3 separate regions of the Homo sapiens genome follow, and all the other regions are linked to region 1. The links come from fine-mapping of genetic effects on gene expression. A gene starts in region 1. Each other region holds a variant in brackets. All regions are shown on one strand. Distances are from middle to middle.

Region 1 (4,193 bases):
CTGAGGACACCAAATTAACAAATCACGAAATCTCTAGCGCCTTTGCAACTCTGAAATTCTCTGCCACCTTAACAGCAAAGGCTTTGAGAATGACTACAACCATCCTCTTCACCCTAGAAAGATGGATACACTACCAGAAAAAAAAAAAAAAAACTCTTCTTTTAAAATGATGATAGGGAACCTCCTCTTTACTTCTCTGACATCATTTTGGAATCTTCCATTTAATCCTTTCCTTCAATATGAAACTCTGACTGGGGGAACCAGAAGCAATCAGTCCAGACCGGGAACTAGCTGTCTTTAGAACCAACGAATACATGTCAAAGACCCAATATGTAGCAAGGACACAGGCCCATGAAGTGGCTTAAGCAAAGATGTGATGTCTTTATTTAGTCCGAGTTGTTTTGTTTTGTTTTTGTTTTTCCTATACGAACCAATATTGCTTTAAGCCCAGATTGTCTTAAAACAAGAGGCAAGTAAAAACAAAAATTATTTCACGAAGTTCTTTTTAAACCCACAGTGAAATAAACACTGACACCCCCAAGGCAGCTAGGAAGTCTTCAGTTGGTCTTTGTTATAAAACTAATTTTAGGGCAGGATGCTGGCAAAGCAGATAATTCGCCTTCCTCCAATACACAGGTGTCTGCTCATGTCCGTTGGATTGAGCCTGTATAGCTAAACATTTTGATTTCCAAGGTCACTGGGTTATTGTTGTCCAACAAATACTCCCCTCATCCCCAGTCCCCAGCCTCCTCCCAATCCCTAGGCTTCTGTGAGAATTACAATCTATGTGCAAGTTTTGGTCTCTGCCAACTGGTATTCCTGGACCCCCTTCAAATCTTTTCACACACCAGCCCAATTTATCGGATCACGTCAAGGCACTATTTGAGGGCCTCCAGTGATACTTAAAATTCCAAAATCTGTACCAAAGCTGAGAAGATCCCTAAGATCTGGCTCCTCCCTTCCCTCTCTATCCTTGCCAGCCTTCCTTCAGGTCCTAAAACAAATCAAGCTCTTCCCTTACTCAAGGCCACTGCATCTCTATATCCCTCTGTAAGGAAAAATCTTCCCGAGGCTCTTAATCCTCACTTCTCATGCTTCAGGGCTCAACTGAAATGTTATCGCCTCAGAAAAAGAATTTTCCTTGAAATCACCCTAAGTAGATCTCCAGGTTATTCTCTATCAGAACATCTTGTTTATCTCCTTCATGGCACTTGCCAAAGCCTCTTCAAATTTTTTTTTTTTTTTTTTTTTTTTTGAGTCAGAGTCAGGGTTTGTCGCCCAGGCTGGAGTGCAGTGGCGCGATCTCAGCTCACTGCAAGCTCCGCCTCCCGGGTTCAAGGATTCTTCTGCCTCAGCCTCCCGAGTAGCTGGGATTACAGGCGCGCACCACCACACCCAACTAATTTTTGTATTTTTAGTAGAGACGGGGTTTCACCATATTGGCCAGGCTGGTCTCGAACCCCCGACCTCGTGATCCGCCCGCCTCGGCCTCCCAAAGTGGTGGGATTACAGGCGTGAGCCACCACGCCCAGCCCTTCTTACTTCTTTTTGTCTTCTTATTTAATGTCTACCTCCCCGACTGGAAAGTCAGTTGGAAGGAGTCGTAAGTTGGGTCTCGGTTGCTCAGCGCGGTTCCTGCAGCTTCACCTGGAGGATCCCCAGTTCGCCCCAGCACGGATGGAGGAAAAACTTAAAGCTCCCTATCTATCCCACAATCCCAGAAATCGATGGCTGTGCCCACTTCAAGATCCCATTTCTCACACAGCCTCGGAAAGGCCTGTCCCACACCTGCACTTTCTTTCTCTACAAGACACATGGGCCGCTCCTGTCCACACATTTGAGAATCCTGTACACAAATCTCTCCTGAGCCCCCTCAAGCCTCACCCCACCCCACGCCACCTCACAGGCGCGCGCCTCAAAACCCCCTTCCCGTCTCACACGCGCTCCTCGACACAAGCGTCCTACAAGCCCCCAGCCCCACAAGCGCCCCACGAATTCCTATGAGGGCTGCGCTCCCCGAGCTCCCGCGGCTCCCCACGTTCCCGTGTCCCCCGCCTCCCAGCGCCGCGCCTCCCCCCTCCGCAGCGCCTGCTCTCACCGATCACCTCCTGCAGCTCGTAATCGTCCCTGTTGATGGACCAGGGCAGGGCGCTCGAGTCCTCGGACATGACGGCGGCAGCGGCTCGCGGTCCTCCCTCAAACTCGCTGACCTCGCTCGTCTCCTCGCCGCGCGTCTCCCCACCCCCAACAGCCGCCGCCGCCGCCGCCGCGCCCCCACCAATCGTCTCGGAACAGCCACGGGTCGGACGGCGCCGGGGCGCGGGGTCACCGCGCGGCAGAGCAGCGGGGGCTCAGAGCTCCGGCGGACCTCGCCTCCTGCTCCTCCGAGTCCGGCACTGCCCGGCCCAGCCCACGTCCTGTCCTCGGCCTCCGCAGCAGCAGCGACAGAAGCTTTGCCTGGGCCCAGCCCCTCTGTCCCGCCCTCCACCCCAGCCCCACGCACGGGCCAAACTTTCCCCTCTTCCTCCACCTGCCGACACGCAGCGCGCTGACGTCACTGCGCTGGTCACGCCCCACCTCGGGCCCGCCTCCGGCCGCCATCTCCAGTGTGGCTGGATGTAAAGTGAGCAAGCTAGAAACCCGAGAAGGTAGGAGTTCGCGGTGAAAGGGAAGAAGTGCTTAGGTAGAGGTTCATCGAAGGCATCGAAAAGCCGTAGGAGAGCCTCAAGTAGCACAGAGGCAGTAGCCACACTAAGCATGGCGACCAAAGGGCAGCAAAGTAGAAGGGGCAGAGCCACTTCTAGCGCCTGGGGCACGCTGCTGTCTCCGTCGTCGCATTCATTGGTTTGTTTGAGAAGGAATCAGAAAAGCAATGGGTGTGGGTAGACGTCAGTCATAAATTGGTCCCGCCTCCAGGCTCTTAGCGCGCTTCTCCGTGTTAGGGCTGCAGCCCTTCAAGAGCTCCGTTACCGCGCTCGTCTTACCACTTCCTCTGGAGTGACGTCACGGCGTAACCGTCACACCCTCGAGACGTGCGAAAGGCTCTACAGGGTGTGGAGAAACCCTGAGGGAGCGGCTGGGTGGGGTAGCCTTTGGGTGTGGACCACTGCCAACTAGGATAAAAGGCCTTGGGCCACTGGTCGGAGTGAAACTGGAAGTTTGCCTGGTGACATTTTTTTCAAGGCGGACGTTCTCTCTAACGCTTGTCGCGGCGCTGTCTCTCGCGGGTCCACCCTGCACTGGGCGGGTTCTGTCCATTCGCAGCTTTAGATCTGAAGCTCAAATAAGCACCTGCCTTGAGGGACTCGGGAGGTTGTCTTTCTTCCCCCCGGACAGGGCTTGGGGTATTAAACAAGTGAGATCGACCCACGGATTTGGGGGTTGTCTCACGGGCGTTGGCTTTTGTCGCCCCCACTGAACAGTTTTCTCAGTTTGACTACGTACGGCCGTTAGAGAAATTAGCGAGCTGAAGACTGAACACGCTTGGTAAATTGGATTTTAAAAAATAATGAGCATCCAACAGGGATAGGGCTAGGTGCGAAACTGTTCTAGGTTGGACACCTTTCAGTCCAACGGCAGTCTTTAAGGAAGAGACCTTAGGCCGGGTGCGGTGGCTCACGCCTGTAATCCCAACACTTTGGGAGGCGGAGGCGGGCGGACCACCTGAGGTCAGGAGTTCGAGACCATCCTGACCAACATGGTGAAACTCCCTCTCTACTAAAATACAGAAAAATCGCTGGGCGTGGTGGCTGGCGCCTGTAATCCCAGCTACTAGGGAGGCTGAAGCAGGAGGCGAAGGTTGCAGTGACCCGAGAGCATGCCACTGCACTCCAGTCTGGGCAACAGACGGAGACACCGTCTCAGAAAAAGGAAGAGACCTTCACCTAGGCCCAGCTGAGACGGAGCAGGGACCCCTTTTAGGGCCTGCAGGCCCTCAACCATGGAAATAAAGGAAAATCTTGAGTTACTTCAAGAGAAATTCCCGGCACTTAGCTAGCCTTGAAAAGTTAATGAACCCCTTGATAAGCAAGAGGGCAGTAATAACTTTAAACATTAGCCAAAGAAACTAAAATAACTGGATGTTTGGTTCCCTATAAAAACTAAAGATAACATCAACACATGTCCCTGAGTTGTTTTTTAGAAACCCAGACCCCCACCAAATGGATCTGCTGGCACATAGACCTCAGAGAATG
Region 2 (4,193 bases), 110 kb after region 1:
AATCCCACCACTTTGGGAGGCTGAGGCAGGCGGATCACGAGGTCAGGAGATCGAGACCACGGTGAAACCCCGTCTCTACTGAAAATACAAAAATTAGCCAGGTGTGGTGGCGGGCGCCTATAGTCCCAGCTACTCAGGAGGCTGAGGCAGGAGAATGGCGTGAACCCAGGAGGTGGAGTTTGCAGTGAGCCGAGATTGCGCCACTGCACTCCAGCCTGGGCAACAGAGCGAGACTCTGTCTCAAAAAAAAAAAAAAAAAGGAATAATACAGTGAGTATCCAAGTACCCATAAGTCATTGCTAAGACAGTTAACCTCCACCATGTCCCACTCTAGAAAGATCATCTCCAATCCTGTCCCCAGCTGGGGAAATCACTCACTAGAGTACGTATGTATCATCCCCATGCACGTTTATATTTTTGAATAGTTACAGATTCTTAAAAACAAATAAAACTTCTGCATGCCTTAAATATAACATGTCAAATGTCATCACACTGTATGTGTTCCGCCTGAATTTTCTTTCTTTGCGGATTATCTTTATCTTTGTGAGATCCACCTATGTGATCCATGTAGTTCTTTTTTTTTTTGAGACACAGTCTCGCTCTGTCATCCAGGCTGGAGTGCAGTGGCATGATCTCAGCTCACTGCAACTTCTGCTTCCTGGGTTCAAGCGCTTCTCCTACCTCAGCTGCCTGAGTAGCTGGGACTACAGGCTCGTGCCACCACGCCCAGCTAATGTTTTGTATTTTTAGTAGAGACGGGGTTTCACCATGTTGGCCAGGCTGGTCTCAAACTCCTGACCTCAGGTGATCTGCCCGCCTTGGCCTCCCAAAGTACTGGGATTACAGGCGTGAGCCACTGTGCCCAGCTGTGATCCATGTAGTTCAAATAATTGATTCTTACTGCTTTTTAGCATATGATAGACAACAACCTACCTATCCATTCCCCTAATGATGCACCCCTGAGCTGTCTCCAGGTGTTTGCTATTTCAAGCTTCTGAATACATTTTCTTGTCTGTACATACAAGAAGCTCCCAACTGGACTTGCTGCCACCAAGGAGGCCCACAAAAAGGCAGTGGTCTCGCCCACTGGCCTTCATTCCTTTCCCTGACATCATCATCATCATTCTGATGGGTGTGAAAGGACATCCCTCTGGCTCTAATTTGCTGATCACTAAGAATGAGCATTTTTATTTATTTTTCCATTTCTGCAAATTCCCAGTCATGGTTTTTGCTCTTTCCTAAGTGAGCTGTTTGCCACCTTCTTGTTGACTCCTAATTCTTTACATATTTTGGATACTGAATCTGTTCGTTATATTTGCTTTTGTGGATTTTGTTTTCACTTTTTTTTTAAGATGAAAGCTAGTTTATTAACAAAGTAAAGGAATAAAAGAATGGCTACTCCATAGGCAGAGCAGCCTGTTTTTACTTTTTATTTCAAAATAAAGAAGTTTAAAATTTAATGTAGTTGGCCGGGCATGGTGGCTCACGCCTGTAATCCCAGCACTTTGGGAGGCCGAGGTGGGCAGATCACTTGAGGTCAAGAGTTCAAGACCAGCCTGGCCAACATGGTAAAACCCCATCTCTATTAAAAATACAAAAATCAGCCAGGCCTCGTGGCACATGCCTGTAATCCCAGCTACTCAGGAGGCTGAGGCAGGAGAATCACTTGAACCCAGGAGAGAGAGGTTGCAGTGGATCTAGATTGAGCCACTACACTCCAGCCTGGGCAACACAGCAAGACTCTGTCTCAAAAAACAAAAACAAAACCAAAAAACCAAAAACCACTAAATTTAACTACAGTATTGTTTTTTTTTGAGACAGGGTCTCATTCTATCACCCAGGCTGGAGTGTGATGGCACGATCTCAGCTTATTGCAACCTCCACCTCCCTAGCTCAGGTGATCCTCCCATCTCAGCCTCCCAAGTAGCTGGGAGGCGCATGCCACCACACTCAGCTATTTGTGTGTGTGTGTGTGTGTGTGTGTGTGTGTGTGTGTGTGTGTGTGTGTGTGTGTATTTTTTGTAGAGATCAGATTTCACCATTTTGCCCAGGCTGGTCTCAAACTCCTGGGCTCAAGTGATCCACCCAACTCGGTCTCCCGAAGTGCTGGGATTACAGGCTTGAGCCAGCACGATCAGCCTGAATTTCTTAATGTTTTCCTTCACTGGGCATTTAGGACCTTGTTAAAGAAGGCCTTTCATCTCCAGAGCCATGAAGATGCTCTCCCATAGCGTCTTCTAGGCTTTAAAACATTCAGAGCTTATTTGCTGTGTGGTGTTGGTGAGGGCTCTAATTTTTCTCCCCGCAACCCAGATAACCAGGGTCACCCAGTTAACAGAGCTTTAGAGTCCACGTTGCTTTCCGTTGCTCACGTCTTCACTGACTGCTCTGTTCATCTGCCTATCTCAGAATCACACCCTTTCTCCAGGACCACTCTCCTTCTGCTGGAAGTACGTTCTTCAGTGAGTTCCTTGAGT[C/A]TCACTCTCCTGAGTTTCCTGTTGTGATAAATTCTGTTTCCCATCTGGAAATGCCTTTACCATAAGCAGATTCTTGAACAACCATCTATTTCAATGCCTGATTCTAAGCTGATGGTGAAGAGTCCCAAGTCACACTCACTGTATCACATGGCTTCCGGCTCCCACTGTGGCTGCTATAAAGTCTACTCTCAGTCTCAGCATCTGCTCTCTGTAATTTGTGCTTTTTCCTTGGCTGCATTTAAGATCTTCTCTTTGCACTTGGTGTCCTGCAGTTTCATGATGATATGGATGTGGATTTCTGTGCTTCCTGCTTCTGTGTATTCAGGCTTTCATAACTTACAGAAAATTCCTGGCCACTGTCACTTTAAGCCTCATGTCCCCACACTTCTCTGTTTAAATGTGTGCTGTGCCTCATCCTGACCTCCACACTTCTTATGTTTCATGTTTTCTATCTCTTTGGCTCTCTAGTCTGCATTTCTTCTGATTTTCCTTTCCATCTACTAATTCAAAATCTCTAGCCAAAATGGGCCTGTTGTTAAACCCACAGTTTCATCTATTGTACTTGTCATTTCCAGACGTTCTCTTTGATTCCTCTCCAGTCTGCCAGGTCATTTTAGTGGTCTTGTGGCTCCTGGTTCAGGCTGTTTCCTTCCTTTAGTCTGTAAATATCTCAAGCATTCTTAGTTTAATTTAGGATGTCAAAGGCTGGGTTCTCTGAGGTTCAGTTCCGCTGTGGTTCTGCTGACTTACTCGTGGTGGCTTTTCCCATATGTGCTTGGTAATTTTACCTGTGAGCTCATGTTTAGCTGGTTTTAATCTGGGGAAATCCAGAGAGACCTGGGTGTGCTGGGAGCAGCCACCCACCATGCATGTTCTCACTAAGTTTGCAAAGAACACCATTCTTTTAACCTGGGCCACTTCTCAGGGCTGTGCTTACAGCAAGTGGTCTAGAGGAATGAGGTCATGTTTCTTCTAGTCAAAGTGCAGGTTTGTTGACTGTCCACTGAAAAAGCAGTGAGTTCTCCAACCTCAGCATGCATCGGCCATGACATCAGCCCCACTGCTTGCATAGCATCTGCCTGGGCCCCTTGTGTCACCCCCTGGGAAACCTGTGCCAGCAAGAGGCTCATGCTGCTTGCTGTGCTCCAAGGACCCAGGAACCTCATGTCTTCAGTCAACATCTGTGAAACACTGTAGGCTAGCAGATTAGTCTGTAAACAGAGTAGAAGTCAGACCCAGAAAAACGTCAGTGCCTCCAGGCGCCTGCACGCTGCCCTCATGGAGGCAGGAGAGCTCCTCAGTGTGAGCTTTTCCAGATCACGCAGCTGCCACCAACACAAACTTCAAACCCTTGTTTTTGTTTTTGTTTGTTTGTTTGTTTTTTTGTTTTGTTTTTTTTTTTAGTATTTATTGATCATTCTTGGGTGTTTCTCGGAGAGGGGGATTTGGCAGGGTCATAGGACAATAGTGGAGGGAAGGTCAGCAGATAAACAAGTGAACAAGGGTCTCTGGTTTTCCTAGGCAGAGGACCCTGCGGCCTTCCGCAGTGTTTGTGTCCCTGGGTACTTGAGATTAGGGAGTGGTGATGACTCTTAAGGAGCATGCTGCCTTCAAGCATCTGTTTAACAAAGCACATCTTGCACCGCCCTTAATCCATTTAACCCTGAGTGGAAACAGCACATGTTTCAGAGAGCACGGGGTTGGGGGTAAGGTTAT
Region 3 (4,193 bases), 140 kb before region 1:
CTGCTCCACCCTGAGAGCTGGGCCTGGAGAGAGTGACCAGAGGCATAGGCCAAGATGTGTGTGTGGGGTAGGGGGTAGCTGAGCAAAGGCAGGAATCAGTGCAGACCCTTTCCCAAAGGCAGGTGCTAGGCCCAACCTGCAGATTCATGCTAGGGCGGTCTGTGTTGTAAAGGGCCTAGATTGCAGCTCGGGTTGGGAAGCCCCGTAAGAGATGCCTGATCAAAGCTGCTTCTTTCCCCGAGCCCTATTTTTTGTGAGTTCTGAGGTCAGAACCACAACTACAGGAGCGATTTCTTGGACAGATGGAAAACCCTGCCATGCAGCACCCATCTCTACCCCAAATGTACTCTATAGATAGGCAGGGCCAGGGCTGGGCAACAGGAATCTAATTTTCTGCCCAGACCCTGCCTCTGCAGGTTGACCTCAGGCCAATGGCTTCCCATCTCTGAGCTTCGGTTTCCCCACCCATTCAGTGAGGGTGGGAGGCACAACTCTGAGCCTGTAGGGTAGTTACAGACAACCCATGACAAGACATACCTCATTGATCAGCGATCGCTTCTTAGCGTCAGGATAGATCCACCCATCTTGGCATGTGTCTGTGTCATTGAGGCCAAACTGGATGATAGAATCCAGATTCCAAGGCACAGGAAGGTACATGAAGCATGTCAGGAAACTGCCATTGGGTGCTTGGGGTATGGTCAGATTCAGCTGCTCAGCTTTGGACAGGTGGGGGCCCACTGCCAGGATCCAGCTGGTATTGCAATAGGGCTTCTGGGCTGTGAACACGAAGTGGTCAGCAAACATGAAGAAGGCCGACATGATGCTGGGGATAAAGGTGAGGGCTACTAGCCTCTGCTGGAATGTGCCAAACTCCCCCACCGCATCCAGGAGGTTGGCAAACTTGTCATCCTGCTTGGTGTGGACAGCCCTCAATCTGCGTAACAGCATCTCCAGAGACCAGGAATGTGGATGTCCTGCTACCTCATGCTGGTTCAAGTTCCTGGAAGCATCCTGGGATCTGAGCTCTTCCTTGAAGTTCTCCTCTCCTGCCATCTGTCCAAAGAAAGGGTGCAGCTCAGTCTCTGCTGACACCACTTCCTAAACATCAGAGACCAGCATGGGAGCCACCGACTAGGAACTGGCCTCTGGCTTGAAGCAATATGGATTCCAACCTTGACGTTCTCAGTAGTTCCCTCCCTTGCTTTCTTAGTTAACATGATTTATTCCCCCCTGGCCCAACCATCCTGGAGTTTTAGTGTAATTGAGATTTTTAATGTTTTAGAAAATGCTGTGCTTCTGTTGTCATGAAGGACTAAGTTCTTAGGAACTCTCCTACAACTTCCCCACAACTCAAGCTTTTTGTTTACACACACACTGAGACACCAGTGGTCTTGCAAAAGGTAGGAGAGGTCTCTAGGGACCTTTTCTTCAAAAACAAACAAAGATCTGCATCGTCGGCTGTAGCCAGGAGGTGGGCCCAAGGTGGGAGGCTGGAAGCCTGGGCCACAGAGATGGGGCACCAAGGCTGGTGCAGTGGTGAGGCAGTGCAGCATGGAGCCAAACTGGAAAGGCAGGAGTGGGGAAGGAGGAAGGTGAGCAGTACTGACTGTCAGCATATTACCTTGCAACAGCAGCAAGGAGGGGAAACTAAGCTTAAAACTCTGTTTTGAGCCAAAACTCTCAGAAGGGGTAACAGTTCCTGGTGCGGGGCACCCCTTGGCTCAGAGCAGAGGCAGAAGCGAGCCTTCTCTAAAGGAAAATTTCTTCAAGTTGATTCTGCAAGACTCTCAC[A/G]GAGGTACATCAAGCAAAGAGATTATAGCTTGAGAAGGCAAGCCACTCTACAAGTCGACAGAATCCAGAAACCACAGACTTTTAGACTGCAGATGTTGAAACTGTCAGATACAAAATTTAGAACAGCTATTGTATGAACTTTTTAAGGATTTAAAGGTTGTAATTACGAAAATGAACTTAAAACAACAATCAGGAAAAAGCAGACACTTTTGGAAGGAAGATTATGAACTTTTAAAAATGAAAGCTTGTTGAACGGCAAGTTGTTGTTGTTGAGATAAAAACACTAAGAGGAAAGTTAAACAAATTTGACACAAAGAATCAGTGAACTGGAATAAATTGCTGAAATGTGAGAGAGAGGTAAAGAGACTTGGTAGATAGAAGATTTAACATGTATCAAATTGGAAGCCCACAAGGAGAAATGGAGACGAAATAAAAACAATACGTTTTCTAAAACTTTTAAAACAAATTCTTAGATCCAGGAAATGTAACTTAGGCACGATAAATAAAAAAGAAAACCATGGCTAGACACATTGCAATGAAGCTGCAGGACACCAATGACAAAGAAAAGATCTTGAAAATCAGCTGGAGAGAAGGCAGGCCACTGACTAATGAAGAGCCTCAGCAGTCTCCTGTTAGAAGCAGGTGCAGGCAGGTAGATCACTTGAGCCCAGGGGTTCAAGACCAGCCTAGGCAACATAGTGAAACCCTGTCTTTACAAGAAAATTCAAAAAAATTTAGCCAGGCTTGGTGGCATGTGCCTGTAGTCTCAGCTACTCGGGAGGCTGAGGTGGGAGGATCACCTGAGCCAGGGAGGTCGAGGCTGCAGTGAGCCATGATCACGCCACCGCACTCCAGCCTGGGTAACAGAGCAAGACCCTGTCTCAAAAAAAGAAGATGAAAGTTAAGCAACACGGAAACCAGGAGAGCGAAGAATATTTTCAAAATGTGGATGGAAAATTATAGACCACATAGAATTGTATACCCAGCAAAATTGTCTGTCAAGAACTAGGGTAAAATAAAGGTAATTATAGAGATAACAAGAAATTGAGAGAACACACAGTAAGAGACCTGATTTGATTGAACTTTTTTTTTTTTTTTGAGACAGAGTCTCGCTCTGTCATCCAGGCTGGAGTGCAGTAGTGTGATCTCGGCTCACTGCAAGCTCTGCCTCCCAGGTTCACGCCATTCTCCTGCCTCAGCCTCCCAAGTAGGTGGGACTACAGGTGCCCGCCACCACGCCCGGCTAATTTTTTGTATTTTTTTTAGTAGAGATGGGGTTTCACCGTGTTGGCCAGGATGGTCTTGATCTCCTGACCTCATGATCCGCCCACCTCAGCCTCCCAAAGTGCTAGGATTACAGGCGTGAGCCACCGCGCCCGGCCTGATTGAACTTTTAAAAGATAAGAAGGGTGCTGGCTTCGGTAGCACATATACTAAAATTGGAACGATATAGAGAAGATTAGCATGACCTCTGCACAAGGATGACACACAAATTTGTAAAGTGTTCCATATTTAAATAAATAAATGAAAGATAAGAAGGAAAATGATCTCTGGAGGACAGCTGGAGATGTAATAATGAGTGGTAAAAATGGGAAAAATGTAAGCAAATTCAAATATTGATTGTATTAAATAAATACAATCATTGAGATTGTATTGAATCTATAGTGGAGAAGAATTTATATCTTAACAACAATATTGAGTCTTCTAACCCACGAGGATAGAATGAAGATAGAGATAGAGATGATAGAGATAGAGATAACTCCATATGTTTTTAAGTTAAAAAAAAAACTTGTGAATACAAGTTAAAGAAGAAATCATGGTGGGAGTTTAAAAATATTTACAAATAAGTGACAGTAAGAACCATAACATATCAAAACATATGGGTGGTATAAAAAGTGGTACTTGTGGCAAGTTTATAGCTTTAAGTGCTTTATAACAGAAAATCAGAAAGACTGAAAATTAATCAACTAAACAACCATCATAAGAAGTGGGAAAAAACACAAAAGAATAAATCTAAAGAAAGTAAAGGAAGAACGTAGTAAAGTTAAGACAAAAATTAAGGAACTAGAAACAAAAGTATAAGAAAGGGAATCAACAAAGTTCAAAATTAGTTCCTTGAATAGATTAATAAGATAGACAAATCTTTAGTGAAATTATGTAAAAAATAAAATAAAAAAGAAGATACAAATAAGTCTTTTATATATGCAAAAAGGAATATACAGATATAGCAAGACTGAAAATATTAACTGGATACTAACATCAACTTTATGCCAATGAATTTAAAAACTTAGGTGAATTAAATTTCTAAAACAAAATTACTCAAAACAGATTTAAGAATAAATAGAAAGTCTTAAAAGTTCTATAATGACTAAATTAAAGTAGAAGTAAAAAAATCTTCCCAC

The links. PIP is the estimated chance that this variant, and not a neighbour inherited with it, causes the effect.
Region 2: its variant is the best candidate, but not a certain one, in a credible set for the expression of OXSR1 in whole blood (INTERVAL, PIP 0.89).
Region 3: its variant is the best candidate, but not a certain one, in a credible set for the expression of OXSR1 in whole blood (INTERVAL, PIP 0.77).

What each region holds. Positions count from the first base shown.
Region 1 is chr3:38,163,852-38,168,044 of GRCh38, reverse strand. OXSR1 (oxidative stress responsive kinase 1) reads right to left here and starts at 2,508. Exons shown (of 18, transcript NM_005109.3): 1 at 2,099-2,508. The coding sequence starts at 2,168. LOC101928234 (a long non-coding RNA gene) reads left to right here and starts at 2,569. Exons shown (of 5, transcript XR_940733.2): 1 at 2,569-2,648. RefSeq lists silencers at 2,014-2,063, 2,114-2,503 and enhancers at 1,735-2,350, 2,744-2,843, 3,114-3,243, 3,394-3,473, 2,634-3,833.
Region 2 is chr3:38,053,884-38,058,076 of GRCh38, reverse strand. The region is part of intron 2 of DLEC1 (DLEC1 cilia and flagella associated protein); the gene reads right to left. Among named protein-coding and RNA genes, the nearest start is that of DLEC1, 17 kb to the right of the region's middle. RefSeq lists enhancers at 2,557-2,606, 2,637-2,716. The variant C/A (reference allele first, on the strand shown) is at 2,478.
Region 3 is chr3:38,302,887-38,307,079 of GRCh38, reverse strand. SLC22A14 (solute carrier family 22 member 14) reads right to left here. Exons shown (of 11, transcript NM_001320033.2): 2 at 538-1,053. The coding sequence starts at 1,053. It also overlaps the pseudogene RNU6-235P. Among named protein-coding and RNA genes, the nearest start is that of SLC22A14, 23 kb to the right of the region's middle. The variant A/G (reference allele first, on the strand shown) is at 1,792.